Linked DNA regions of Homo sapiens. The protein of the gene in region 1 purifies or fractionates together with the protein of each later gene. This does not show direct contact. Each region holds a gene or a part of one and is shown in the gene's direction. Other genes may lie near its edges.

The links.
Region 2: the proteins of PRTN3 (region 1) and RAB3GAP1 purify together in Homo sapiens (affinity purification with mass spectrometry; one large-scale study listed by BioGRID and IntAct). This does not show direct contact.
Region 3: the proteins of PRTN3 (region 1) and POTEE purify together in Homo sapiens (affinity purification with mass spectrometry; one large-scale study listed by BioGRID and IntAct). This does not show direct contact.
Region 4: the proteins of PRTN3 (region 1) and QRICH1 purify together in Homo sapiens (affinity purification with mass spectrometry; one large-scale study listed by BioGRID and IntAct). This does not show direct contact.
Region 5: the proteins of PRTN3 (region 1) and LYPLAL1 purify together in Homo sapiens (affinity purification with mass spectrometry; one large-scale study listed by BioGRID and IntAct). This does not show direct contact.
Region 6: the proteins of PRTN3 (region 1) and SPCS2 purify together in Homo sapiens (affinity purification with mass spectrometry; one large-scale study listed by BioGRID and IntAct). This does not show direct contact.
Region 7: the proteins of PRTN3 (region 1) and USO1 purify together in Homo sapiens (affinity purification with mass spectrometry; one large-scale study listed by BioGRID and IntAct). This does not show direct contact.

What each region holds. Positions count from the first base shown.
Region 1 is NC_000019.10:843,571-846,784, forward strand, and holds part of PRTN3 (myeloblastin precursor), read left to right. Parts: coding exon 1-56; intron 57-322; coding exon 323-464; intron 465-2,576; coding exon 2,577-2,807; intron 2,808-3,214. UniProt on the Homo sapiens protein: Serine protease that degrades elastin, fibronectin, laminin, vitronectin, and collagen types I, III, and IV (in vitro).
Region 2 is NC_000002.12:135,055,017-135,059,392, forward strand, and holds part of RAB3GAP1 (rab3 GTPase-activating protein catalytic subunit), read left to right. Parts: intron 1-2,994; coding exon 2,995-3,070; intron 3,071-4,376. UniProt on the Homo sapiens protein: Catalytic subunit of the Rab3 GTPase-activating (Rab3GAP) complex composed of RAB3GAP1 and RAB3GAP2, which has GTPase-activating protein (GAP) activity towards various Rab3 subfamily members (RAB3A, RAB3B, RAB3C and RAB3D), RAB5A and RAB43, and guanine nucleotide exchange factor (GEF) activity towards RAB18.
Region 3 is NC_000002.12:131,261,144-131,266,262, forward strand, and holds the end of POTEE (POTE ankyrin domain family member E), read left to right. Parts: intron 1-582; coding exon 583-703; intron 704-2,211; coding exon 2,212-3,540; 3' UTR 3,541-4,135; downstream 4,136-5,119.
Region 4 is NC_000003.12:49,045,267-49,049,642, reverse strand, and holds part of QRICH1 (transcriptional regulator QRICH1), read left to right. Parts: intron 1-2,396; coding exon 2,397-2,574; intron 2,575-3,063; coding exon 3,064-3,218; intron 3,219-4,376. UniProt on the Homo sapiens protein: Transcriptional regulator that acts as a mediator of the integrated stress response (ISR) through transcriptional control of protein homeostasis under conditions of ER stress.
Region 5 is NC_000001.11:219,180,132-219,184,507, forward strand, and holds part of LYPLAL1 (lysophospholipase-like protein 1), read left to right. Parts: intron 1-4,376.
Region 6 is NC_000011.10:74,966,012-74,970,387, forward strand, and holds part of SPCS2 (signal peptidase complex subunit 2), read left to right. Parts: intron 1-3,553; coding exon 3,554-3,688; intron 3,689-4,376. UniProt on the Homo sapiens protein: Component of the signal peptidase complex (SPC) which catalyzes the cleavage of N-terminal signal sequences from nascent proteins as they are translocated into the lumen of the endoplasmic reticulum.
Region 7 is NC_000004.12:75,800,726-75,805,101, forward strand, and holds part of USO1 (general vesicular transport factor p115), read left to right. Parts: coding exon 1-74; intron 75-353; coding exon 354-475; intron 476-3,408; coding exon 3,409-3,547; intron 3,548-4,376. UniProt on the Homo sapiens protein: General vesicular transport factor required for intercisternal transport in the Golgi stack; it is required for transcytotic fusion and/or subsequent binding of the vesicles to the target membrane.

The sequences.
Region 1 (3,214 bases):
GGCACCTTGATCCACCCCAGCTTCGTGCTGACGGCCGCGCACTGCCTGCGGGACATGTGAGCGGCCGCCTCCACACCCCTGTCCGCCCGCCCCGCCCTCTTCCTCCAGCCCTGGCCCGGCCACTGTCCCTCTGCCCGGGGAGGACCCAGCTAAGCCCCGTCTGCAGACCCCAGGCCCCGCGCGCGTGGGCAGTTCTGGGGGGAGGCCCGGGGCAGGGTCGCCGAGGGAGGGGTCTGGGGCTGCACCGCGGCCTCGGGAAGGGCCGGCTGTGGGCGGCGGCGAGTGTCCAGGGCGCCGAGGAGTGACCACCCCACCCCCGCAGACCCCAGCGCCTGGTGAACGTGGTGCTCGGAGCCCACAACGTGCGGACGCAGGAGCCCACCCAGCAGCACTTCTCGGTGGCTCAGGTGTTTCTGAACAACTACGACGCGGAGAACAAACTGAACGACGTTCTCCTCATCCAGGTGGGCGGGCAGGGCCGCGAGGGCTCGGAGGGGCACGGCCAGAGGGCTCCGGGACCCCCATTCCTGCAGCCAGCATTCATTGAGCACCCACTGTATACCGGGCCACGACCGAGGCCGCTGCAGCCTGGGTCCAGTGGCACTGGCCGGGGGAGACCGCTCCTTGGACACCAGGCCACTCCTCCTCCCCGCCTCTCCCCCGCCCGCGCCTCTCCCCCGCCCGCGCCTCTCCCCTGCGCGCCTCTCCCCCGCCCGCGCCTCTCCCCCGCCCGCGCCTCTCCCCCGCCCGCGCCTCTCCCTTGCCCGCCCCTCTCCCCTGCCCGCGCCTCTCCCCTGCATGCCTCTCCCTTGCCCGCCCCTCTCCCCTGCCCGCGCCTCTCCCCTGCGCGCCTCTCCCCTGCCCGCGCCTCTCCCCCGGCCGCTCCTCTCCCCCGCCCGCGCCTCTCCCCCGCCCGCGCCTCTCCCCTGCGCGCCTCTCCCCTGCCTGCCCCTCTCCCCTGCCTGCGCCTCCGCCCGGTGTGCTGTTCCCCCAGAAAGCCAGGTGCCCTCGCCTCCTCCGGCGCCTCCCCTGACCTCACTGGAAGTGGCGAGGACAGCCACAGCCCTCCCCGATTCACTGTTCTCCACTGAACCGCGTGCTCCTCTCATTCATGGGGCCCTCCTAGCCTCCTCCCACCCAGAAAGATCAGCTCCCCAGGGCAGAGGATTTTTGTCTGTGTTGTTCGTTATTGGACTCATGTGGCTTAGAACGGGACTGGGCATACAGGTGGTGCTCAGTAAGTGCTTGGGGCTGGGCACTGTGGCTCACGCCTGTACTCCCAGTACTTTGGGAGGCTGGGATGGGAGGATCACTTGAGGCCAGGAGTTTGGGAGCAGCCTGACCAACCTAGTGAGACCCCATCTCTATAAAAGACATTTTTTTTTTTTTTTTTTTTAGACAGAGTCTCACTCAGTCATCCAGGCTGGAGTGCAGTGGTGCAATCTCGGCTCACTGCCACCTCTGCCTTCCAGGTTCAAGTAATTCTCCTGCCTCAGCCTCCTGAGTAGCTGGGATTACAGGCATGCACCAACACGCTTGGCTAATTTTTGTATTTTTAGTAGAGACGGTGTTTTGCCACGTTGGCCAGGCTGGTCTCGAACTCCTGACCTCAAGTGATCTGCTCTCCTCAGCCTCCCAAAGTGCTGGGATTATAGGAGAGAGCCACCGCGTCCAGCCTACAAAAGAAAAATTTAAAAATCAACCGGGCATGGTAGCACACGCCAAGCCACTCATGAGCTGAGATGGGAGGATCACTTGAGCCCAGGAGGTTGAGGCTGCAGTGAGCTGTGATCATGCCACCACACTCCAGCCTCGGCGACAGAGCAAGACCCCATCTCAAAAAAAAAGTGCTTTGAAGATGAATGAATGGGCCAGGGGCGGTGGCTGTAATCCCAGCACTTTGGGAGGCCGAGGCGGGCGGATCGCCTGAGGTCAGGAGTTTGAGACCAGCCTGATCGATATGGCAAACCCCGTGTCTACTAAAAATACAAAAATTAGCTGGGCGTGACGGCAGGTGTCTGTAGTCCCAGCTACTTGGGAGGCTGAGGCAGCAGAATTGCTTGAACCCAGGAGGCAGAGGTTGCAGTGAGCCGAGATTGTGCCACTGCACTCTAGCCTGGGCAACAAGAGCGAAACTCCATCTCAAAAAAAAAAAAAAGAAAAGAAAGAAAGAAAGAAAACATGAATGAATGGCCGGGCACTATGGCTCACACTTGTAATCCCAGCACTTTCGGAGGCTGAGGAAGGCAGATCACTTGAGGTTGGGAGTTTGAGACCAGGCTGGCCACCTCACCCAATGGGATGGCTCCGGGAGGTTCCAGTGAGCCGAGATCACGCCACTGCATTCCAGCCTGGGTGGCAGAGCAAGACTCCATCTCAAAAGAAAGAAAGAAGGAAAGAAAATGAATGAATACAATAGTGACAAATGGGACAAAGGGGGTCGTGGGGCCCAGGCGGAGGGAGCGGCATCCGCGGCGTTTTGAGGTGGTGGGTGTGGTGGGTGTGGTGGGAGGGCGGCCCGGGCGGCCACCGTGACCTGGAAGCAGCGTCTCACCGCCGCCTGCCTTCTGCCCCAGCTGAGCAGCCCAGCCAACCTCAGTGCCTCCGTCGCCACAGTCCAGCTGCCACAGCAGGACCAGCCAGTGCCCCACGGCACCCAGTGCCTGGCCATGGGCTGGGGCCGCGTGGGTGCCCACGACCCCCCAGCCCAGGTCCTGCAGGAGCTCAATGTCACCGTGGTCACCTTCTTCTGCCGGCCACATAACATTTGCACTTTCGTCCCTCGCCGCAAGGCCGGCATCTGCTTCGTAAGTAACCGTGCCCCCACCCCGGGCACCGGGCTGCCATGAGGGGAGGAGGGCGGCGGCCAGGGTTCCACGCCACCTCTTAGCTGTGTGGCTTCATGCTGTGCCTCAGTCTCCCCACCTGGAAGGTGGGCACACCCAACACCCAACGGGCAGGCTCAGCGGGGTGGGGGCGCTCACATTGCACCTGGCTGCTTGGGTGGGTCTGGGGGTTCCCTGCCCCCCACTCCCCTCTAGGACCACAGGAAGGTGTGGGAGACCCATCCGCCCTCACCGGCGGCCCCTTCCAGAATCCAGGACTCCAGGTATCCAGCGGGAGGCCCATAAATGCCCAGTTCCTACGAAAGACCTCAGCCCCTCCCTGCTCACACTTTTTGTTTGTTTTTGAGACGGAGTGTCGCTCTGTTGTC
Region 2 (4,376 bases), on another chromosome or scaffold:
TTGAATCCCCATATGTCAAGCACAGTGCACATTACGGATTTAGGGATGTGGTGGTTAGTAAAACAGGTACGGTTTCTGCTTTTACTAAATGTGCAGTCTAGTGCATTACAGACACAAATCAAGTAATACAAGTCTGTAATTATGAGTTTATGTAAGAGCTAGAAAGGGAAAGAAACCTGGTCTTATAAGAGCCTATAACAGAGGGACCTAATATAGAATAAGGAATCAGGAAATGACCCTTCATTTCCTGAGAGCTTTTAAGGAAAAAATTACTTAGTTTTTCTAGTCAAATCTCAATACTTGTAGGATAAAGTCCAAGTCTCTTAGCTAGTACTGATAGAATTCATTATTCATACAATAAGTATTTTAAGACATTCCTGGCCGGGCATGGTGGCTCATGCCTGTAATCCCAGCACTTAGAGAGGCTGAGGCAGGCAGATCACTTGAGCTCAGGAGTTCAAGAGGAGCTGGGGCAGCATGGCGAAACCTTGTCTCTACTAAAAATACAAAAGCTAGCTGGGCATGGTGATGTGCACCTGTAGTCCCAGCTAGTCAGGAGGCTGAGATGGGAGGATTGCTTGAGTCCTGGAGGACAGAACTGCAGTGAGCTGTGATTACACCACTGCATTCCAGCCTGGGTGACAGAGTTGAGACCCTGTCTCAAAAAAAAAAAAAAAAAGACATTTCTTCTTTTACTGTAAAAACTATATTTTAAATAGTTTTCACTATAATAGTAATACCTTATAGTAGAATAAAAAATAAAAATCACCTGTAAACTTAACACCAGGAAATAACTGCTGTTAATTTTTTGACATATTTCCTTTTTTTTTCTTTTTTTGAGACGGAGTCTCGCTCTGTCGCCCAGGCTGGAGTGCAGTGGCGCGATCTCGGCTCACTGCAAGCTCTGCCTCCCAGGTTTACGCCATTCTCCTGCCTCAGCCTCCCAAGTAGCTGGGACTACAGGTGCCCGCCACCACGCCCGGCTAATTTTTTGTATTTTTAGTAGTGGCGGGGTTTCACTGTGTTAGCCAGGATGGTCTCGATCTCCTGACCTCATGATCCGCCCGCCTCGGCCTCCCAAAGTGCTGGGATTACAGGCATGAGCCACCACGCCCGGCCGACATATTTCCTTCTAACGTGTGTTAAAAACTTTTTTGGATCAAATATTAATATTTCTTTTTCTTTTTCTTTTCTTTTTTATTTTGAGACAGAGTCTCACTCTGTTGCCCAGGCTGGGGTGCAGTGGTGCAGTCTTGGCTCACTGCAACCTCTGCCACCTGGGTTCAACCAATTCTCCTGCATCAGCCTCCTGAGTAGCTGGGATTACAGGTGCCTGCCACCGCGCCTGGCTAATTTTTGTTGTATTTTCAGTAGAGACGGGGTTTCACCATCTTGGACAAACTGGTCTTGAACTCCTGACCTCGTGATCCACCCGCCTCAGCTCCCAAAGTGCTGGGATTACACGCGTGAGCCGCTGTGCCTGGCCTTTGTATATTTTCTTTTGATTGACATGATTTTTATTGGGTGCATATTAGTCCTCTGAGTGGATTAATTTACAAGTATTTCCTGCAGTTGGGCATTAAGGTAACTTCCAGTTTTTTTAGCTTCGTAAATATAGTATACATTTCATGCAAATTTTTGCTTGCCTGTGGATATATTAAATTTTTCCTCTTTGGTAAACATGTAAACTTGTTTCTAGAGCACTGATTTTCAAACCTAGTAATTGTCATTTGACTGACCTCCCCCATGAATTAGTGTATGAATTGATACTGCATTTAATTTTAAAGAGGAATTAGTAAGAAGCCTCAGATGAATCATAGATTTATTATTACTATCTTAAAACATAATTATTAGTTCATATTAGTTCATAATGTCACTGAAGGAAAAAATCTGTTGCCTTTCCATACAGTTTGACTAGAATTAACTCTAGTACTCTAGCAGTACTTCCAGGTGTTTAGAGAGCAATGTTGCTGTTAGATTGCATCATACTTAGCTTATATAAGAAGTCAACTTAGAGTAAGAATAATTCTTCTGAAAATGTCTTTGACTGAGACTTGACAGTTTTCATTTACTGATGTTGAGCATGTTGCTACTCAAAATTCAGTTCTCTTTTTAATAGGCCTTCTTGACCATTGGATTTAAAGATTGGTGACTAGTTTTAAGACCTGTCACTTATACTTAAAGTTGACATATTTACTTGCAATTTCTTGTCAGCTGTCCATTAAAACTTGTTTTAGTTTCATGAACCAAGTTACCAAATAATATTTTCTTTTTTTGTTGGGGGCTGGGGGGGTAAATCGGAATTCCTAATATATTTAAAGGAAAAGTTTATTTAAATAGGTCAGTTATTGTGGGTAGGAGAGAGATGATTGGTTTCATAATTTTATTTATTTATTTATTTTTGAGATGGAATCTCACTCTGTCGCCCAGGCTGGCGTGCAGTGGCGCGATGTCCGCTCACTGCAACGTCCGCTTCTATGTGATTTTTGTGCCTCAGCCTCCTGCGTAGCTGGGATTACAGATGTGTGCCACCACACCGGGCTAATTTTTTTTGTATTTGTGCTGGGCTGGTCTTGAACTCCCAACCTCAGGGTTAGGAATTCAAAGGGCTGGAATTACAGGCATGAGCCACTGCACCCAGCCCATAATTATCTTTAATAGTATCATTTTAGTCTGTCAGTTTTTATTTGTGCCCCAAATTTGTTTTATTCGTTTTATTAGAGATTCATCAATTCTTAATTTACATTTTATAGAAGGCAGAATGCTTTTGTTGGGTAAGCAATAGATATAAATGAATCAAAACCTAAGAATTCTTGAATGAAAGAAGATTATTTCTCTTACCCCATATCCATAAATTAAGCTAGCAATACTAAATGTACTGAGTCCTCTCTGGTCAAATTGTTAAAATATAAAAAATACCTTTTTAAAGAAATTACATAATAATAGGAAAAAAGGTGTGCTGTTGTATTTAGAAGCTTTCTCCCTACTTCCTAGGTTTATTTCCAAAGTTGAAGAAGTCTTGAATGACTGGAAACTGATTGGAAACTCTTTGGGAAAGCCACTCGAAAAGGTCAGATCTATTTGCTGGTGTCTCTAAATGACTATTTACTTTGAAACCTCTATTTTCCAGCCCTTTGCTGCATTTGGCACATTTGAATTAAATGTTTTTTAAAGTTACGTATAATCTATAAACATCAAATAGCATTTGGAAGAATTTGGATTTAAATCTGTGGCAAATGATATATGTAAGACATTTGTGAAATGTTTAATAAAGTTATATATATGTGTGTGTGTATATATATATATATAAAATGTCATTCTTTGTGAGTGATTCTTTGTGAGTGAAGTTTGCTTCTCTTTTGCCTTCTCCCTTGGAATGTTAAAACATGTTTTTAAAAGTTTTTTATTTGGTCAGAGAAACATTGCAGTGACCATCTTCTTTGGTAGCATATTTTGCTTACTAATGAGGAAAATTCTAGTACTTACCATTGACTTACTGTAGTTAACAACTATTTCACTCAGTTTTTGTATTTTATAATATCACTAATAACATCCCCCTTCCCTTTTAAGCTTTTTAACTTATGGATGTTTTAAGGATTTTATTTAAGAATGAAAAAATTACTCTTTGAAATTGAGGTAGAAATCAAATTCTAATCTAAAGTATTGGTAGTTTTATTCATAAACCACACCCCAAATGTTTACTGAAGAATGTACTCTGAGAACAAACCTGGATTCACTGTGAAGGGATCTAACAATTTGATTTTAAGTTTATGTAGATGCTTAGTTTGTTAGATAAATTCTTTTGAAATAAAATTTATGGTTGGTTTTATTACAACTCAATATTACTAACTCAGTGATAACTTATTAACTCAGTAATTATTAATTCAATAGTAATTTAATTATAATTTACCCTGTGTTAGGAACTTTGAGTTCTCAATATTTGCTAGGGGTTTTCAGCTTTGTGATGGTGATACTATCAAAAAAGAGACTGTCAAAATGCATTAGGAAGCCAGGCAACATGGTGAGACCCTGTCTCTTAAGGAAAAAAAATCTCCTTATTTGTATCAATATGAACAGAAAAAGTAAGACCACATATAAAAAATACATCATTCAAAGACTCTTGGCAATATATACATTGATTTACTACACTACATGTGTGAATAAAGAAAATGTGACGCTTTCAAACACGGGTCATTCTACTCCACTTGAAACAAATACATAACAATTGATATAGATGCCAATAAGATTAGAGGCAAAATAAGCTGGATATAGCTAGAATAGGAAATGATTTACACTACTAAGAAGAGAGCTAAACCGGGTACTTATGAGCTCTGATATTCTTTCATTCTTTGATTTACATGTATTTACTGAGTACC
Region 3 (5,119 bases), on another chromosome or scaffold:
AGGTGAGCAAGTGAAGCTCCATCTGTTTACAGCCACTCTCTGTCGCTCGCATTACCGCCCGAGCTCCTCCTCCTGTCAGATCAGCGGTGGCATTAGATTGTCCTGAGTGTGACCTGAACCCTGTTGTAAGTTGCTCATGCAGGGGGATATAGGTTGTTCACTCCTTATGAGAATCGAATGCCTTTCTGATCTGTCACCATCTTCCGTCACCCCCAAATGGGACCATCTAGTTGCAGGAAAACAAGCTCAGGGCTCCCACTGATTCTACATTTTGGTGAGATATAATTATTTCATTATATATTAATAATAATAGAAATAAAGTGCACAATGAATGTAATATACTTGAATCATCCTGGAACCATCCCCCACCTCAGGTTCCTGTAAACATTATCTTCCACAAAACCAGTCCCTGGTGCCAGCATGGTTGGGGACACCTGGTTAACAGATGTGAGACCCCTTTGCCTTGTCTTGGAATAATGTGCAGATATGCATTGTGTGAATGACATCTGATGGCGCCATCTTGCCCTGTACATCATTTTAGGGACAGCTCCAGTATTTCATGAAAATTAAAATTTCTTCTAGTGACGAACAAAATGATACTCAGAAGCAATTTTGTGAAGAACAGAACACTGGAATATTACACGATGAGATTCTGATTCATGAAGAAAAGCAGATAGAAGTGGTTGAAAAAATGAATTCTGAGGTATTTTCTTTAGTTATTTTCAAATGTTTTTATATGTGTGTATATTTTAAAGAACTGTATTTTGGAAATATAAAGGATTTTTAAGTCATATATATGTGTGTATATATTCTATATATCCTTTGTCATATATCTATATACGTACGTATAGGATAAAGCCATGTTCTTAATTCACCTTCATTTGCCTGCAACAGTTGAGTAGTGACCTGCACAATGGCCTCAATCCAAAGGAGAAGTATTTGATGTTTTTCATAAGAATTGATGATCTTTCCACATCAGAAATAAGTTTTGCTACTGAAAACAGATTTTCTCGTTTTTGGACATTAGTTTTTTAAAAAATGTTAATAGAGAAGTCAATTGATTATTTTTACTGATAAGAAAGTAGGAAATGTATAGCTGGGTCAGAGGCCACATTGTGGATACCATTATCCTTACTTTTGCAGAGAGGAACAGTTTGCTCCAAGTAGTTTCTCATTTCAGTGTAAAGAGGTTTGAAAACAATGACATGCCATGATACACATTTAGTAATAATTTATTGATAAGTATTTTGTTTCTGGAGAAATAGTTCAGTATATTTCCCCTATTTCACCATTACTACTGTTTCAAACATTATAAAGAGGAAATAAAAGTTACCGCAATGGCAAATAATCTCATGATTTCTAAGAAGATCTCTATAAGTTGTATCTTATTTACCATTCATATTTTGAAACAAAAGGTTTCTTTTGTATTTATATATTTACACCACAGAAGTAAGTGTGGTTTTGTGGAGGATCACTAGAAGTAGCATCAGCAGACCTGGGGAAAATCCTGCATCTGTGTATATTTTTTGACCTCTCCTTTTAAGAATCGCGATCTTAAATGAGTTCAGTATTATATGTAGAAGAGCAATGCCTAGATACAGATGTGTACAGTGTAGAAGGGTACAGTGCTTAGATTTGACAGTTATAAATAAATGTAATTCTTATAACTGAGTATAGAAATATTAGAAATGTAGAATATCGGTAAAACGTTCTTCAGTAAAAGAAACTTAAAGAACTTTGAGAAATTGCTTCTGTCCAAATATATGCATAGCTAAGGCTCTTAGGATGGTGTGGTTGATAGGTTAGATATCAGAGTGTAAACCTAATCTTAAAAATGTAGTCAAATTATTAATCTTATATTTTATGCCTCTGGGTTTTTTGTAACTCAGAAAAAGGCTTTTTTAATTCTGGGATTCTTAAAAATCCTCTAGTGATTTATTTTTCATCGTCTTTAAATAAATATTTAAACTTTTAGGAATTTAGGAGCAGATTCCTAAAAGTTTAAATATTTATTTAAAGACGATGAAAAATAAATCACTGGAGGAATTTACACTCTTATTAGGTTTGAAGTTTTGTCCAATTTTTTTCCAGTTAAATATCCACTATGGGGATTCTTTCATTATACAAATACATGTTATTTTTGAATTTCAGAAGAAATCATGATATGTCAATCTATTGAGTGCTAACTAAAAGTTCTCTTTGTTTACTTAGCTTTCTCTTAGTTGTAAGAAAGAAAAAGACGTCTTGCATGAAAATAGTACGTTGCGGGAAGAAATTGCCATGCTAAGACTGGAGCTAGACACAATGAAACATCAGAGCCAGCTAAGAGAAAAGAAATATTTGGAGGATATTGAAAGTGTGAAAAAAAAGAATGATAATCTTTTAAAGGCTCTACAATTGAATGAGCTCACCATGGATGATGATACCGCCGTGCTCGTCATTGACAACGGCTCTGGCATGTGCAAGGCCGGCTTTGCGGGCGACGATGCCCCCCGGGCTGTCTTCCCTTCCATCGTGGGGCGCCCCAGGCAGCAGGGCATGATGGGGGGCATGCATCAGAAAGAGTCCTATGTGGGCAAGGAGGCCCAGAGCAAGAGAGGCATCCTGACCCTGAAGTACCCCATGGAACACGGCATCATCACCAACTGGGATGACATGGAGAAGATCTGGCACCACACCTTCTACAACGAGCTGCGTGTGGCTCCCGAGGAGCACCCCATCCTGCTGACCGAGGCCCCCCTGAACCCCAAGGCCAACCGCGAGAAGATGACCCAGATCATGTTTGAGACCTTCAACACCCCAGCCATGTACGTGGCCATCCAGGCCGTGCCGTCCCTGTACACCTCTGGCCGTACTACTGGCATCGTGATGGACTCTGGTGACGGGGTCACCCACACTGTGCCCATCTATGAGGGGAATGCCCTCCCCCATGCCACCCTGCGCCTAGACCTGGCTGGGCGGGAACTGCCTGACTACCTCATGAAGATCCTCACCGAGCGTGGCTATAGGTTCACCACCATGGCCGAGCGGGAAATCGTGCGTGACATCAAAGAGAAGCTGTGCTATGTTGCCCTGGACTTCGAGCAGGAGATGGCCACGGCGGCCTCCAGCTCCTCCCTAGAGAAGAGCTACGAGCTGCCCGATGGCCAGGTCATCACCATCGGCAACGAGCGGTTCCGCTGCCCCGAGGCGCTCTTCCAGCCTTGCTTCCTGGGCATGGAATCCTGTGGCATCCATGAAACTACCTTCAACTCCATCATGAAGTCTGATGTGGACATCCGCAAAGACCTGTACACCAACACAGTGCTGTCTGGCGGCACCACCATGTACCCTGGCATGGCCCACAGAATGCAGAAGGAGATCGCTGCCCTGGCGCCTAGCATGATGAAGATCAGGATCATTGCTCCTCCCAAGCGCAAGTACTCCGTGTGGGTCGGTGGCTCCATCCTGGCCTCGCTGTCCACCTTCCAGCAGATGTGGATCAGCAAGCAGGAGTATGATGAGTCAGGCCCCTCCATTGTCCACCGCAAATGCTTCTAGGTGGACTCTGACTTAGTTGCGTTACACCCTTTCTTGACAAAACCAAACTTCTCAGAAAACAACATGAGATTGGCATGGCTTTATTTGTTTTCTTGTTTCATTTTTTGTTTTGTTTTTTATTGGCTTGACTCAGGATTTAAAAACCGGAATGGTGAAGGTGACAGCAGTCGGTTGGAGGAAGCTTCCTCCAAAGTTCTACAATGTTGCCAAGGACTTTGATTGTACATTGTTCTTCTTTTCAATAGTCATTCCAAATATTGTGAGACGCATTGTTTCAGGAAGCCCCTTGCCCTGCTAAAAGCCATCCCACTTCTCTCTAAGGAGAATGGCCCAGTCCTCTCCCTAGTTCACACAGGGGAGGTGATAGCATTGCTTTTGTGCAAATTACATAATGCAAAATTTTTTGAATCTTCGCCTTAATACTTTTTAATTTTGTTTTATTTTGAATGATCAGCCTTCGTGGCCCCCCTCTTTTGTACCCCAACTTGGGGTGTATGAAGGCTTTTGGTCTCCCTGAGAGTGGCTGGAGGCAGCCAGGGCTTACCTGTACTCTGACTTGAGGAGAGTTGGATAAAAGTGCACACCTTAAAAAAAATTGAGGAAGCACAGTATTTCAGTACAGTGGACAGCTTAGCATGTTGACAACTGAGAATAAAATGCTCAGTTCTGAACTGGACAATGTAAGACACAACGAGGAAACACTGGAAATGGAAATTCAATTACGTCATTGTAGACTGGCTGCTGCTCTACATGATTGTGACCAAAGTCAGATAGCTGAAAGAGACTTCTTTCCAGAGAACAAGACATGAACAGGTTTATTTACAGAAGACAATGAATTCTCATTTATCTCACCTAAAAGAGAACAGATTCTTTCTCAACAAGTCTAATGTAGACAGTAAAATCAACAGGCTAAAAATTAAGCTCCACGAAACAAGATAAAACTCTGAGAGAAAAGACGGGGCAGGCCGCCATCTTTCCCGTTCAGGCAACTTAGTCATTCCAGCCTGCGGGCTTTGGAGAGTACAAACCGACGAGGGACAGAAGAGATCCCACAGCACAGCATAGCTGCTTTACCAAATCATGGCCAGACTGCTTCTGTAAGCAGGCCCCTGATCCTGTTCCACCTCACTGGACAGGACCTCCCAACTGGGGCCTCCAGCTACCCCCACCAGCATTCCTTGGCCAATGGAAATGTGAAATGTTCCTGGGACAGAGCTCCCGGAGAGGGGCAGGCCCCCACCTTTGCTCTTTTGGTGACTAGCCATTCTGGCCTGCGGGCTTTGGAGAGCCCAAGCTGACAAGGGGTGGAAGAGGTACCTCAGCACAGCACAGCCACGCTACAAAAACGTGGCCAGACTCTTGTTTACGTCAGTCCCTGACCACATTTCTAGTCAGCGGGTGAAGTCTTTCAACCAGGGTCTCTGGCTACCTTGACTGCTGTTCTCTGGCCGACAGAGGTCTCAGGCCTCCCTGAGTCAGAGCTCCCAGGGGGAGGACCAGATTGTCATCTTTGCTGTTTGGGTGACCCAGCCATTTCAGCCTTAGGGCTTCAGAGTGTCTGAGGTGGACCAGGGGCTGA
Region 4 (4,376 bases), on another chromosome or scaffold:
ACCTGTAATCCCAGCTACTCGGGAGGCTGAGGCAGGAGAATGCCTTGAACCTGGGAGGCGGAGGTTGTGGTGAGCCAAGATCATGCCACTGCTCTCCAGCCTGGGTGGTAGAGCAAGACTTTGCTCAAAAAAAGAATTTTAAAAAGTTGGAAATATTTTAACATTATTCAAACATTCACTTTTTTATTTTTATTTTTTGAGCCAGAATCTTTCTGTGTCACCCAGGCTGGAGTGCAGTGGCACTGTCTCAGCTCACTGTAACCTCCGTCTCCTGGGTTCAAGTGATTCTTATGCTGCAGCCTCCCAAGTAGCTGAGATTACAGGCATGAGCCACTATGCCTGGCTAATTTTTCTATTTTTAGTAGAGATGGGGTTTCACCACTTTTTTTTTCTTTAAATGATGGCTCAACTGTGGCTGGACATTAAAATCACCTGGGAAGGCCAGGCACAGTGGCTCATGCCTGTAATCCCAGCACTTTGGGAGGCCAAGGCGGGCAGATCAGTCGAGGTCAGGAGTTCGATACCAGCCAGCAAGATGGTTCAATAACAGCCGTCTCTACGAAAACTACAAAAATTAGTTGGGCATGGTGGTGCATATCTGTAATCCTAGCTACTCGGGAGGCTGAGAAAGGAGAATCGTTTGAACCTGGGAGGTGAAGGTTGCAGTGAGCCGAGATCGTGCCACTGCACTCCAGCCTAGGCGAAAGAGCAAGACTCCATCTCAGAGGGAAAAAAAAAAAATCACATGGGAAGCTTTTAAAAATACTGACAATGTGCCTCTACCTTACAATGGCTGGAGATAAGGCCCAAGTGTGAGGTTTCTTTCTTTTTTTTTTTTTTTGGTTTTTTTTTTTGTGAACAGAGTCTCACTCTGTTACCCAGGCTGGAGTACAGTGGTGCGATCTCGGCTCACTGCAAGCTCCGCCTCCTGGATTCATGCCATTCTCCTGCCTCAGCCTCCTGAGTAGCTGGGACTACAGGCGCCCGCCACCACACCCGGCTGATTTTTTTGTATTTTAGTAGAGATGGGGTTTCACCGTGTTAGCCAGGATGGTCTCAGTCTCTTGACCTCGTGATCCACCCACCTCGGCCTCCCAAAGTGCTGGGACTACAGGTGTGAGCCACTGCACCCGGCCAGGGTGGGTTTTTTTTTTTTTTTTTTTTTAAAGCAATCCAGATGATTTCAAGGTGAGACCCAGTTTAAGAATCAGTGCTCTCGGCCGATGGCCCAAGCCTGTAGTCCCAGCACTTTGGGAGGCTGAGGAGGGCGGATCACCTGAAGATGGGAGTCAAGACCAGCCTGACCAACATGGAGAAACCCCATCTCTACTAAAAATACAAAATTAGCCGGGCGTGGTGGCACATGCCTGTAATCCTAGCTACTTGGGAGGCTGAGGCAGGAGAATAGCTTGAACCCGGGAGACAGAGGTTGAGGTGAGCCGAGATCCTGCCATTGCACTCCAGCATCCAAGAACAAGAGCGAAACTCTTTCCCCGCCAAAAAAAAAAAAAAGAAAGAAAGAAATGTTGTCTCAGTTCCTACCCTTTTCAATCAGAATATGCATTTTGATAAAATCCCCAAGTGATTTGTTTGCACATTAAAGACTGTGGGAGCAGTGCTTTGAGCCAGTAGTTCTCAGTGGTGACCAAACATTAGAATTACTTTTTTACTTGAGGAGTTTTTTTGTTTTGTTTTGTTTTTTCTTTTTTCTTTTTTCGAGACAGAGTCTCGCTCTATCACCAGGCTGGAGTGCAGTGGTGCAATCTTACTCAAGGAGTTTTTAAACAATTGATACCTTGGCTCCCCCTCAGAGAGATTCTGGGGTAAGTCTGGCTATTAGTGTTTTTAAATAAAAGATTTGACCGGGCACAGTGGTTCACGCCTGTAATCCCAGCACTTTGGGAGACTGAGGCGGGCAGATTACCTGAGGTTGGGAGTTCAAGACCAGCCTGACCAACATGGCGAAACTCCGTCTCGACTAAAATTATAAAATTAGCTGGCCGTGTTGGTGCATGCCTGTAAACCCAGGTACTCGGGAGGCTGAGACAGGAGACTCACTTGAACCCGGGAGGCGGAGGGTGCAGTGAGCTGAGATTGCGCCATTGCACTCCAGCCTGAGCAACAAGAGGAAAACTCCGTCTCAAAAAAAAAAAAAAAAAAAAACATTTAAAAGTGCAGCCAAGGCTGAGAAGCACTGCACTAGCCCAGTTGCAGTGCTGCTTTTGCTGTCCCTGGGGCAAGAGGTAGAACTCCAAAGCTTCTTAAAAGTAGGACAGCAATGAGTAGAGAAATATTTTCTTAAATAAATGAACTATACATAACATTTTTCTGGCAATTTTGCAGAAGGATCTAATATAAAACAATATTGACACATTTTCATGGTTTCTCTCCTATAGGCTCAAACTGTCCAGGTTGCTGAAGTTGAACCACAGTCACAGCCACAGCCTTCCCCAGAACTTCTGCTTCCAAATTCTTTGAAGCCAGAAGAAGGGCTTGAAGTATGGAAAAACTGGGCCCAGACCAAGAATGCTGAACTAGAGAAGGATGCTCAGAACAGATTGGCACCCATTGGGAGTGAGTGTCTTGGAAGAAGAGTGGGCTGTGTCTAAAATGCAATGGTACTAAAGTAACAGGAGGACAAAATGCCAGAAAAGTGGTGTCTCCTGTCTTGGGGACAAGAGAGCAACATCTGTAATAGTATGTTGAATTCAAGCCTAGTAACAAGCAGTACTGACCTTGTGTACATAATAAGCAGGATATGTGGGGTTTGCCCAAAACCAGGCATTTTTAGACATACGGGTTTCAGGAGTTGACCCTACCAGACCTAAGCAGAGTGGCTTCTGGGAGGAAATGGGAACCAGGGATAGGCACTCAAGCCCTTCTTTCTTGGCATTAGGCTCATATACTCATGTTATAGGCCAGTTCTGACATTACAGGCATGAAACATTCTAGTAGATACAAGTGAGCATTTCTATCCCAGCACCCTGATGGGCAGTATCTGTTCTGAGCCTTCCAGATATGGACCCCCAGGACCTTCATTCATTTTTGAGGCTTCCGTTGCAGGGCGCCAACTGCTGCGATTCCAGGAAGATCTCATCTCCTCTGCTGTGGCAGAGTTGAATTATGGGCTCTGTCTAATGACACGGGAAGCTCGAAATGGAGAAGGTGAACCCTATGACCCAGATGTGCTCTACTATATTTTCCTGTGTATTCAAAAGGTAGGAAACAGATCTTCACAAGAACATGTTTGAGCTGTGTTCCTATTGGATGTTTGCTAGTTTAGTTAATAAATTGATAAGCAAGAAGTTAAAATAAGGAAGTTCTCTTTCAGGTATACAGTGAGTTTTAAAATACACATTTGTTGTTTTTTTTTTTTTTTTAAGTTTTAAAAACCTACACGTTCACTTTAGAAAATAACAGCCGGGGCCGGGCGCTGGTGGCTCACGCCTGTAATCCCAGCGCTTTGGGAGGCCGAGGCAGGTGGATCACTTGAGGTCAGGAGTTGAAGACGACCAGCCCAGCCAACATGGTGAAACCCCATCCACTAAAAATAGAAAAATTTGCCAGGTGTGGTGGTGCACTGCCTATAATCCCTGCTATTTGGGAGGCTGAGGCATGAGAATCGCTTGAACCCGGGAGGTAGAGGTTGCAATGAGCTGAGATCACAGCATTTTACTCCAGTCTGGGTGACAGAGCGAGACTCTGTCTCAAAAATTAAAAAAAAAAGAAAAGAAAAGAAAAAAAATAAGAGCCAGGCAAGATGTCTCACACCTGTAATCCCAGCACTTTGGGAGGCTCAAGGCAGGAGGATCGCTTGAGCCCCAGGAGTTTGAGACCAGCCTAGGCAACATAGTGAAACCCCATCTCTACAAAAAATTAGCTGGGTATGGTAATGCATGCCTGTAGTCCCAGCTACTTGGGAGGCTGAGGTGGGAGGATTGCTTGAGCCCCAGAGGTTGGGGCTGTAGTGAGTCATGATTATGTCACTACACTCCAGCCTGGGTGACAGAGTGAGACCCTGTCTGAAAAACGAAAAGAAAAAAAATTAGCTGGGTGTGGTGGCACACACCTGTAGTCCCAGCTATTTGGGAGGCTGAGGCAGGAGGATCCCTTGAGCTCAGGAGTGCGAGGCTGCATTCAGCTATGATTGTGCCATCACACTTCAATCTGGTCTACAAAGCAAGACCTTGCCTCTTAAAAAATAAATACATAAAATAAATAATAAAATAGGAAAACAAACATTATTCATCCTACTACCTAAACTTCTATTACATTATTGGTAATTACCTTGACTTTTTTTTTTTTTTTTTTTTTTTGTAATTCACAAAGCATTTATGTAACACTTTTCTTTTTGTTAAACCTGATTTTCATGAAGG
Region 5 (4,376 bases), on another chromosome or scaffold:
GAATACAGGCATGTGACACCACGCCCAGCTAATTTTAAAGACAAGGTTTTGCCATGTTGGCTAGGCTGGTCTGGAACTGTTGACCTGAGGTGATCCACTCACCGCGGCCTCCCAAAAGTGCTGGAATTACAGGCATGAGGCACTGCACCTGGCCTGTTCTTGATTTTTTTCTTATCAGGCATACTATGCAAATGCCTTGCTTTATATTTTCATTAACTTAGTATTAAGGAGAAATAAAACCAGAACTTCAAGGACGTTTTTATATGTACTAATAAGAATTTACTTACTTTAATTGATAGAATTGAAAAAGGGAGAACAAAATGATAATGTAAGACTGAAGACTCAAAGGAGTTATTATTTAAATGTAATTTTAATAGAGTTTAAAAGTTTGGTAATCTAGTTAAAAGACCCAATCACCAGTGGTTATTTTTGTGCTATAAATTGCATGTCTTTGAAAATGTCAAAAAAGCTTCTTGTTACTGATTTTTAGGATAGTTGAAGTTGGAAGGAAGAAACATAGTGGTATTTCTGCAGGGATGAAAGATAAGTTCATTTCTACCTAAATATAAATACAATTGTCTGATTAATCATAAGACCACTGAAAACCTTATTCTAGGAATTAATATTTTTTATCTTAAGAATTTCATGTCATTACCAATTGTGATAGGAATTCTAGGCAGTATTTCTCAAACTTTAGGCCAGAGTTATTTCAGAAAATCCAAAAATCTCCATGTGCACTAAGCATTATTTGTGGGTGCTGTTGTGATTTAGTAAAATATGAAATCATTGGACCAGCTTCATGGTAACTTTTTGTTACACAGTTTTATAACCAATAGCTATTTGAACAGATCATCGAACGTTTTAGACCATACTCACCAATAGAAATGTAATATGAGCTACATATAAATTTAAATGTTCTTGATACCACATTATAAAAAGGAAGAAATACGTAAGATTGATTTTAATAATATATTTTATTTAACCCAGTATATTCAAAATATTCAACATGTAATCGGTATAAAATTATTAAAGTGATATTTTATATTTTTTACACTAAATTTTTGAAAATTGGCATGTTTTACATGTACGACACATCTTACTTCTGATGCTAAATAATTACACTGAAATTAAATAGTAGTAAAAATTAGGTTCCTCAAGTTGCCCTGGCTACATTTACGTGCTTCATAACCTTATGTGGTTAGGGGCTGCCATTTTCTACAGCTTAGTTTTAGAACTTAAAGAGGAGTTCCCATATACAGTAGATTGGGAGCCACTGTTCTAGATCAAGTCATCATTTTTACTTATTGGTTTGCTCAAGTTTTCACTTATTAGTAGCAAAACATAGAAGATTTCCAACACATTACTTTAAATATTAAATTATTTAATTGCAATAGAAAATGAAACTGGCATAAACAAATTTGAGAACAAACATAGTTGACTCTTAATAAGCATAAAAAGCATAAGGCTCAGTTTGTGGGAGCAAAAGTGTGAGGGTGTGCAAGAATGAAGCCTCTTGATCTGGACCATTTGGTCTTCCATGGGCGTTAGATATAGGAATACATGGCTTTGGTTAATACTATGAGGCAATTCAGTGGAGGTCAGTTAAGAGAGATGATATCATACTTAGTATATTATAATTAGCTGATTTTTTTCCTACCTTATGCTGGACTAATTTTCTAGAGCAGTTTATATGATACTTACTTCTGTATCCCTACAGACACTGAGGGATACTGTATCTCTAAGCACTTAGCATAGAACCTGACAAATAGATGTTTAGTGAAGATTGAATAAATATCTTGCAGTATTTGCTTGTTGTTGTTATTTAAAATAGTGTAATAGGAATGAGTAATTGTGGGTATTTATATATAATACTAATATTTTAATTGTGTAATAGTTTATGCCTATGTGAGGTTTTAAAAAGTGTATTTTGTTGTGGTAAATAACCTAAGAATTGTTGTTCATAAGGGGTTGCAATTACTTGTCCTAAGACTTGACCCTGCAATAGATTGAGTGAGCACCAGATTATGGGCCAGTTTTAACTAATGAGTCTCAAATTGAGGAGCACTGCGGTATCATTAAGCCTGTAGCTTTTAACTGGTTTCCAGACTTCAGAATGCTGTTTGATAGTATTTTATTAGAATGCTCTGGCATTCATGGTGTACTTTGCTGTTTTAAGACTTCTGACTGGTGTTCCTAACACATTACCCTGTTTAGGCAAGCAGTTTGGGCATAGATTTATTGTCGTTGCTTTTGTAGCATAATATGGCTTCATTTGCGGTTTTAAGGATAGTTGCTACCTTCCATCTATTATGGCAATGTTTCTTGTGCTGCTAATAAGAGAGATTCTGGTGTCATCTACCTTGCTTGCTACCTTTCCGGTGACGTCAAAAGGAGGCATGTGATAGATACGTGCCTTCCTTAACTCTCACTCTTTTTAATGTGATTGGTACAGGATAAAAATGAATTTTAATAACCTTTTTAAAAATTTATCAAGGTTTCATGCTTTAACATGTTGCTACATACTTTCTGATATTGTCCACATTTCTGGTATTTATTCTCTCTCCTGATTTTTTTCTTTCACCACTTGTAAACCCATAAGTTTTTCTGTACTATGGATATTTCATTGACTATGTTATTCCTATAAGGTATATTGAAGATATCACTTGGCTTGTAAAATCATTCCATTGATGGCATGTAAATGATATTCAGGGTTTACCTGCCTGTTAGTTGGCCAGTTTTGTCCTAGAATGTATCTAATCTCTTGTTACATGGAAGTGATGCTTACTATTATGTGGCTTTACCCAAGCCAGTATTTATAGAAATGAGTGAAAATGAAATGTATAAAAGCAGGTTAAGCTTTATTAACTTTGGTACACTATGCCAAGCATATTTCCAGAGAGGCTGTAACAATTGACAGCCTCACCAGCAGTATTCAAGATTCCCATTTGTCTCACATCCTCCTGAACACTTTCCATTGTCTTTTTAATTTTAGCCAAACCAGTAGATGTGTAATGGTATCCTATTGTGATTTTTATTAATATTTCTTTAATACTAATGATGTTGCACACTGTTTTATGTGCTTATTGAGCATTTAAATATCCTCAAAAGAAATGCCCACTCAGATTATTTGCCCATTCTTTTATTTGGTCATCTTTTTCTATTGATTTGTTGGAGTTCTGTAGTTTTTTGGATACAGTTTATTATTGTTGTTGGATATATGAATACAAATACCTTCTCTTTGTGGTTTGCATTTTCACATTCTTAATGACATCTTGTGGACATAAGTTCTAACATGTTTCTTTAAAATTTACAGTGAAATACAGAAATTGTATGTGCATAGTTAATTTTGATAAATTATAGTACAGAGAATTTTGGTAAAATTATGCACCTATTTACCTCAATTAAGTTGGAGAATATTCTCATCACCCCAGAAAGTTTCCTTGTGCTTCTTTCAAGTCAACTCCCATCTCATGTATTATTGTTTGCATATCTATTACTGTAGCATAGTTTGGCTTGTTCTTGAATTTCAGTTAAATTGAGTCACTTAATGAGTGACTTAATGGAATCTTGTGTCTGGCTTCTTTTATTCAAATTGGTATTTTTGGGATTCATCTATATGTGTGTATCAATAGTTCAATTTTTAAAATTCTAAGTAGGTATTATATAAATATAACACAGTTTGTTTATTTATCTACTGTTGTTGCACGTTTGGATCATTTCCAGTTTTGAGATCTAATGAATAATGCTACCATAAATATTCTTGTTACACGTCTTTTTGTGAGCATAATTTGAATTCTTATCTAGACTCTATTCCATTGGTCTAATCTTATAGTAGTACAAAATTGTTGTAATTATCACAGCTGTATAGAAAATTTTGAAACCAAGTGGTGTAAGTTTTGCTCATTCTATGTTACTTGCATTTACGTGTAAATTTTAGAACCTGCTCTTCAATTTTACAAAACACCTGTTTGGATTTTGATTGAAATTGCATGGAATCTAGTTTGATTTAGAGAAAATAGATGCCTTCTAATACATACACATGGTATGTCTCACCATTTACTTAGGTCTTTATTAATTTCTCTCAGAAGTGATTCGGAGTTTTTAGTGTAGAAGTCTTTTGCTAAATTTATCTACAAGTATTCTGTTTCTTCATGTTATTGTAAATGGAATGTTAAAAAACTTAATTTTCAAATTGTTGCTAGTACAGAGAAATAAATTTTAGTTTTTTATTATGTCCTTGTATCCTTCTATCTTTCTAAATTCACTTATTTCTAGTACTTACTTAGTATATTCCTTATGAATTTCGTGTGTGCATTTTATTTCATTGTCTTGCTTTTTTGGACTTGTTTGAACTTCCAGTACAATGTTAAATAGAA
Region 6 (4,376 bases), on another chromosome or scaffold:
TCATATTAGGGCTTGCTAATGTTAGAATTCAACATTTTGAGCTGTGATGTTTATATAGTAAATATCTATCAGTTTATATAGTAACTGTCACTGATATTTTATGTTTTGTATGGTTATTTTATCGTAATTCATTTTTGTTATTAATGTAGAGGTTATTGTCCTAATATGAGCACTTAATAGCAAAACACATAGTAATAGTGAACCCAGCTCTTCTCATTTCTAGCCCAGAACTTTTCCCGTTAGACGTGGCTGCTTCAAGCCACTCATTCTAGGATATTAGGAAAGGATCTGATTTTGGAGACTCAGATCTGTATTAAGTTTACTTGAAGCTGAGGAGCTGAACTGGAAAGTACTGAGCATGAGATACAAGTGTGGCTTGTATTACAGTGGAATTAAGAACTTATTCTGGAGCTAGAGAATATGGGTTTGAAATCCAAGGTATCTGTGATCTTGTGCTAATGAAAATTTACTTATTTTTGAGATGATTTGAATACCACTCATTTATAAATATGGGTAGCATTCAGAATTATCATAAAGATTAAATGAGAGATTTTATATTGTATTTGATACATAATCATTTCCTTTCCCCTCTTTTTTATGATAAATGTAAGATCATGGTCGTTGCCTACCCAGCGTGATTTTTTTTCTCAAGAAGTTGAATATAAAGAACTTAATTATACTTCACTATTAAAATAGGTAATTTTGGTTGGTAGTTTACTTTTTTAAACAATGTTACCACTACCTAAATTTTGTTTTGTTTTCTTTTTTTTGAGACAGGGTCTTACCGTGTCACCCAGGCTGAAGTACAGTGGTGTGATCATGACTCACTGCAGCGTCAGCCTCCTGGCTCGAGCAATTCTCCCACCTCAACCTCCTGAGTAGACGGGCACATGCCACCATGTCTGCCTAATTTTTAAATTTTTTACAGAGACAAGGTCCTACTACGTTGCCTAGGCTGGTCTCAAAACTCCTGGGCCCAAGCAATCCTCCCAAAGTGCTGGGATTACAGGCATAAGCCACTGTGCCCAGCCAACCTGAAATATGTTTTAAAACTTCATGTTGGGGATTTATCTTCAGAGGCAGTTAGCAAACCTCTGATAAAGCAGATCCTAGTCAAAAATTGTATTATCCAGATTGCCCCACATTTCCCCCAGAAGTGGCACCAGGTGATCCTTGACTCCTTTCAGTAATCAGATTAATCATCCCAGTATGAATTTTTCACTATTAAGGCAGTTCAGAAGAATAATATTCCATAGGTTCTAGAGACAGTTCCCAGGGGAATTCCAAAGAGATTTGAAAATGATAGCAACATTATTACAAATATCTGGCCTCCCAAGAGAACTACCTTGATGGTAATTCATTTGTTTGGTTATATTTGTTTAATAAAACAAGGTCTTATTTTTGTCATGTCAGTTTTATTTATAATGTAGGGACTACCATTATAAATGTCTTCTGTTGCTGGGCATCGTGGCTCATGCCTGTAATCCCAACACTTTGAGAGGCCAAGGCGGGCGAATCACTTGAGCCCAAGAGTTCAAGGCCAGCCTGAGCAACTTGGAGAAATCTGTCACTACTAAAAATACAAAAATTAGCTGGGCATGGTGGCGCATGCCTGTAGTCCCAGATAGTTGGGAGGCTGAGGCACAAGAATCACTTGAATCCAGGGGGCGGAAGTCACAGTGAGCCGAGATCTGCTACTGCACTCCAGCCTGGGCGATAGAGCAAGACTCTGTCTCAAAATAAATAAATTAATTAGATAAAATAAAAAATAAATTAGCTGGGTGTAGTGGCACACACCTATAATCCCAGCTACTGAGGAAGCTGAGATGGGAGGATTGCTTGAGCCTGGGATGTTGAGGCTGCAGTGAGCTGAGATCATGCCACTGTACTCTAGCCTGGGTGACAGAGTGAGACCCTGTCTCAAAAAAAAAAGTCTTCTGTATCCTAGACTGCATATATCCTTCATCTCTAAATCTCATGATAATTCTAAAACATCAGTATTATCCCAATTTTAAAGGTAAGGATACTAAGACTTGGGGAAGGAAGTTATTTGTTACAATCATACTGATTAAAGGCCAAGATTTAAATCTAGGATTATCTCTACTCTAAAGTCCATATACTTTGTACTATATTTTCCTGCCTTTCCTGTTCATGAAATTTATCTATTTTTTAACTCTTCTTTAATGGAATGCTTCATGAATTTGCCTGTCATCCTTGTGCTAGGGCCATGCTAACCTCTGTATCGTTCTAATTTTAGTATATGTGCTGCCGAAGCGAGCACTGTTCATGAAATTTATTTTTATTTTATTTATTTTATTTTTATTTTTTGATACAGGGTCTCACTCTGTTGCCCAGGCTGGAGTGCAGTGGCACGATCTTGCCTCACTATAGCCTCTGCCTCCCAGGTTCAAGTGATTCTCCTGCCTCAGCCACACAAGTAGCTGGGATTACGGGCCTGCACCACTACATCCAGCTAATTTTTTTTTGGTTTTTGTGGGTTTTTTTTGTTTTTTTTTTTTTTTGAGACAGAGTCTTGCTGTGTCACACAGGCTGGAGCACAGTGGCACGATCTCGGCTCACTGCAACCCTGCAACCTCTGCTTCCTGGGTTCAAGCCATTCTCATGCCTCAGCCTCCTGAGTAGCAGGACTACAGGCATGTACCACCATGCCCAGCTAATTTTTGTATTTTTGGTAGAGACATGGGGTTTCACCATGTTGGCCAGGCTCATCTCGAACTCCTGACCTCAAGTGATCTGCCCACCTCAGCCTCCCAAAGTGCTGGGATTACAGGTGTGAGCCACCACGCCTAGCCTTAATTTTTGTATTTTTAGTAGAAATGGGGTCTCCCATTGTTCCTTGTTGGCCAGGCTGGTTTCAAACTCCAGGTCTCAAGCAATCCACCTGCCTCGGCCTCCCAGAGTGCTGGTATTAAAGGTGTGAGCCATCGTGCCCAGCCTTGTTTATGAAATTTAAATGGCACAGTATACACAAAGCTCTTATGCCAGTTTTTGGCAAACTATAAGTGCTTATTAACTATGGTACTTAATACTGTCAAAAACAATATAATAATAAGTCTATATGCATATAGGAAGTAATCGTAGTACTATTTGACATACTCTCTTATAGTAAACTATTTGGGTCACTTTTCTTCTCTTAATAACCCTTAAAATCAGTTGAACATGGTCAAGTCCACTGGGACTATTCGTTGTTTTTTATAAAGAAATAAGCACTATTATAACAAAGTCTTGACAAACTAGGTATCTTATTATACATGTTGTCTTTGAACATAAAGATGAGAGCTAGTTTATGCTCTGTATCTTTTTCTTTTCTTCCTTTCTGAGGTGTTTGCAGAATTAACCAGAGAGAGCCTTGCTTCTCTTGGTATATAAACATAAGGATGAAAATGAAATAGCTAAATTTTCAGTGTTTTGGCAGCAAGACAAAGCTGTCTTCTTTAGGACTATCATTATGAAAGTTTTTATATCTGTTGCTTGTCAATTTGTGTTACTTCTCTTTTATGTTTGGGTATTTTCCCCTTAACTTTATTTGAACCTATTTTGTGATGATGGGGATTCTGACCATTTATACCTCATATAAGGAGAAGAGCATCTTTCTCGTGGCCCACAGGAAAGATCCTACAGGAATGGATCCTGATGATATTTGGCAGCTGTCCTCCAGTCTTAAAAGGTATGACTATCCTCACAGATTTTTAAATCCTGGTGTTGGATTTGCCCTGGCATGTTGTCATTATCAACAGAAGACTTATTATGTGCCTACTCTATGTGGATCATAGGGCTAGTCATATAAAATGAAGAAAGGAGTATGGATGATCTAGAAGGTTTGTCCTAGCCCTATAGTTCTGAGATTGCGTTATCACAGAAATGCTCTGAGGATAAACTGTGGGAGAAGGTACTTTTTCCTGTGGCCAGTTAACAGAGACGATTAAGCATACAAAAGTATAAAGGCCAAAGATGTGAGATCAGTTATCTTTGAAGAATTCCATTAGCTTCTGTGTCTTCTATGATCCTGTCTTCTCTCCACGAATACAATCAAGAATATCTGGAGCAGTGCACTGGGCAACTCAAAAAAAGCACAATCTAGAGTCTGTTTCTGACCAGTGTCAGGTATAACTTTGTGCAGCTGACACACATGTGTTTTGTAGGTACCAAGAACTAGGTTCATGTTCCAATTCAGTTTCTTTCTAGCTGTATAACTTTGGGTAAATCATATAAATTATCTGAGGTTTAGTGGGGTCAAAAATGATGCCTAGAGTTTCTGGGAAGATGAAATACCAATTATAATAATAGCAAATGTTTATTGAACATTTACTGTATGTTGGGTATTCTGCTAAATGCATTATCTCATTAAGTTTTAG
Region 7 (4,376 bases), on another chromosome or scaffold:
CCAGCCAAACTTTCCCAGTCCAGAATACATGATATTTGATCATGAGTTTACGAAGCTGGTAAAAGAACTTGAAGGTAAGACTGAAGATTTATATTGATATTTGATGGAAAGTAATTATATTTATATTGTACATGTATATTCTGGATGCATACAGGTTATATGGTAACTCTAAAGGTATATTTTCTTCCTAGCTCTTGATCTGTAGCCCATTGAAGGACATTTGGCTTTCAGTAGGATTGAAAAGATTATTTCTTACCTATCATGGAGTTAGGTTATATGTTTTTACTAAGTCTTAGTAGTAAAATAGTATTTAAAACATTTAAAACAAATTTTAAATAAGCTTCCTTTTATAGGTGTTATAACTAAGGCTATTTATAAGTCCAGTGAAGAAGATAAAAAAGAAGAAGAGGTGAAAAAAACATTAGAACAGCATGACAATATTGTGACTCACTACAAAAATATGATTCGAGAGCAGGTAAGTACTAATGAACTGTATATACCCTCTGATTACCAATAGGCACTTTCTGCTTTAAGGGAGCCTTTTTTTCTGACATTTCAAATGAAAGAGGATATAGAAAGCAAAACCCATCATTTTTCAAAGCATCTGAGTATTCAACAAACAGAGTGCTTAATATGTGCTAAGCACCATGCAGCTGATTTATTAGATAATGATGAGTGGATAAAGATGAAACTACAATTGCGGAATCATCAGTTGACATTTTCTTTCCAGGATACCAGTGAACTTTCATTACTTGCATTGTGTTGAGTACCCTAAACCTTCATTATATTCCTTCAAAATGTTTTCTTGACTTTTACTCTCATTTAATTTCTTATGATATTTACCTTGATTGGAATTCTAGAAAGTGCTGAAAAATGAGGTTATTAATGTTGTTAAAATTCCAGTGTCATAAAAAAATACAATAGTGGCAGACCCTGTGGGACAGATTCATCCCCTTCCCTCTACTGCTCTCCACACCTGTCTACTAATTGTGCACAGTTTATGGCAGGTGTGGCAAGTAAAAGCATAGATAGAACCCTTTAAATTGACAACTGTTTATATCTTATTTTCTTCCTCACAATCTACATTACTGAGATTAGTTTGTTTTTTGTTTAGACAGAGTCTTGCTCTTGTTTCCCAGGCTGGAGTGCAGTGGCGCAGTCTCGGCTCACTGCAACCTCCGCCTCCCAGGTTCAAGCAATTCTCTTGCCTCAGCCTCGCAAGTAGCTGGGATTATAGGCGTGTGCCACCACGCTGCCTAATTTTTATATTTTTAGTAGAGATGAGGTTTCACCATGTTGGCTGGTGTTGATCTCCTGACCTCGGGTGATCCCTTCCCTTCCCTGCCTCAGCCTTCCGAAATGCTGGGATTATAGGCATAAGCCAGCGCGCCCAGCCTACTGAGATTAAAATTTTAAGAAAGAATGAAAATATTGTGGTATATTTAGCATTCATTCTAAGCTTTTCAGTTTAAAAGTAAATCAATCAATAAATTATAATCTTAGAATGGTAAAATTTGAATCATCAAACTACCTATGGTTATTAGGATTTTTCATCTATATCTGGGTACAAAGATGGAGCCATTTCCAGTTGCTAAAATGTAATAATATCTTTGGAACAGTGAAAAAAACAAATAGTTGTAATGTGATATAGAGTCTATACTTGGGGCTGCAAATACAGTTGATTTGGCAAAAGAAAAGAGTGATTGACACAATTACTCTAATGACTTCCTTAGAAATGTTCATTTTAAATATTCTTACCATTTAAAATGCTATTTGGCATTAGTCCACAAGCATCTAGAACTATAAAATGTTTATATCCTTTGAATGACATTTGATAATTCATCCTAAGGGAATTCTCCAAAATTCAGGAAAACAATTATATGGACTAAAATATATAATGTAATGAAATTTGTCACTTTGAAAAATGGAAAGCAATATTAAGTAGATGCAATACAATTTATATTCAGTGTTTTTGATGCTGAGGTTGCTTTCCATTTTTCTTTTTCTTTTCTTTTTTTTTTTTTTTTTTTTTTTTTGAGACAGTTTCGCTCTTGTTGCCCAGGCTGGAGTGCAGTGGCTGAGCACGGTGCCTCATGCCTGTAATCCCAGCACTTTGGGAGGCCAAGGTGGGCAGATTACCTGAGGTCGGGAGTTCGAGACCAATCTGACCAACATGGAGAAACCCTGTCTCTACTAAAAATACAAAAAATTAGCTGGGGATGGTGGCACATGCCTATAATCCCAGCTACTCAGGAGGATGAGGTAGGAGAATCGCTTGAACAACCTGGGAGGCGGAGGTTACAGTGAGCCGAGATCGCACCATTGCACTCCAGCCTGGGCAACAAGAGCGAAACTCTGTCTCAAAAAAAAAAAAACCCAAGAAAAAAAGAAAGAAAGAAAAGAAAAAAAATGGAAAGCAACCTTAGCATCAAAAACATTGAATATAAATTGTATTGCATCTACTTAATTAGATAGGATTAAAAATTATGGTTTGAAAACTATGTAGCAATATGGGGAAATTATGATAGAATGTTAAGTAAATTAAAGGCTACATAATTATATATATATACCTATTGTGACAAATTTTAAACCATGGATTGGGAAAAAATTAGAAGAAAATAAAGAAATACATAAAATTCTGGCCGGGCACGGTGGCTCACGCCTGTAATCCCAGCACTTTGGGAGGCTGAGACCGGTGGATCACCTGAGGTCAGGAGTTTGAGACCAGCCTGGCCAACATGGTGAAACCCCATCTCTACTAAAAATACAAAAACATTAGCTGGGCATGGCAGCGGGCGCCTGTAATCCCAGCTACTCAGGAGGCTGACGCAGGAGAATTGCTTGAACCTTGGAGGCAGAGGTTGCAGTGAGCTGGATTGCACCACTGCACTCCAGCCTGGGCGATAAGAGCGAAACTCCGTCTCAAAAAAAAAAAAAAGAAAAAAAATACATCAAATTCCAACTATAGTTTTATTATGATGGTAAAAGTTGGAAGCTCTTTTTTCAATTTCCTATATTTATTTTCTCATTGGCTTTTAATATTAAAAATAATATAGAAGCATATGTATACATACATATACTAAATTTCTTAAATAGTTTGATGTAAATTTTTAAATGGTTTTATGACCATAAAATGGAGTTTTTTCATTTTATTTCCCACTATAATTGCAGGCTATGCCATGATGTTTATTAATGGAGCCTTCTTTGAAATCTTGTAGTTCTGCTGCATGTTAATTGGCCTTGATGGATATATTAACACACCAAGTTGCTTAATTACTGAACGATTTTGGAAGTGTTAAGCACTTTAGCATACTGTCCCAAAATGACCTCTAATTTTTAAAATGTGTTCACCTTCTTAATGCTAACGAGTATGACTTTAAAACACATGAATTATGTTTTGTTTCACAGGATCTCCAACTTGAGGAATTAAGGCAGCAGGTTTCTACATTAAAATGTCAAAATGAACAGCTCCAGACGGCAGTCACACAGCAAGTATCACAGATCCAGCAGCACAAAGACCAGTATAATCTTCTTAAAATACAGCTAGGTAAGCATAGCTAAGCCATCACTATGATAGCACTCAGGTCATTCTTTCCTCAAGAGCTAGACAAAGTAAAAGATTCTTTCTGTGGACTAGTATTTTTCTAACCTTAATCATGGTGACAAAAATGTAAATCGGAGTTTAAAGCAAAATAGCATGATAGTTAAGAGCAGTTAAGACTGGACCTTTAGAGATTGAAGTCCAAGCTTCTTGCTACCTGTTTATCTGGCCCATTGATTCTCAACCCTGGCTGCATATTAGAATCTCCTGAGATGCTTTTTTAAAAAAAAATACCAATGCTGATACCACAATAGTGTTTCTGATTTAATAAATCTGGGATTAGGTCCAGGGATCAGTAACTAGTATAAGCCCACCAGGTGATTCTAATGTATAGCTGATTAAGAATGACCGCTGTAATCTTTCAGTTTCCTCTTCTGCAAAATGAAGATAGTAATAACATTTGAGAACTAAATGATATAATAAATGAAAAATTTAAGTTGTGCCTGGAAAATGGCAAGAGCTCCACTGCTTTTAAATAGTATTATCCTACGGTGCTTGTGAAGATTTTTTAAAAGGATTTTATTTTCTCATATTCAGTTGACAGAATTGGAATTAAAATTACTGTAATTCTTAATCATAGATCACCAGACCATGCAGTTTAGTCAAGGCTGTGCTGTTTTTTCTCCCAGAAATCTGGAAAATACTATCAGTTCACTATTTTTATCAGTATACCATTCTGCAAAGATGAAATGTGATTGCAAAAGTGCTGCCAAAGTAATTGAATGAAGAAAATTACATATTTGAATCTTCTACTTCAAAAATGAAAAACTGAAGT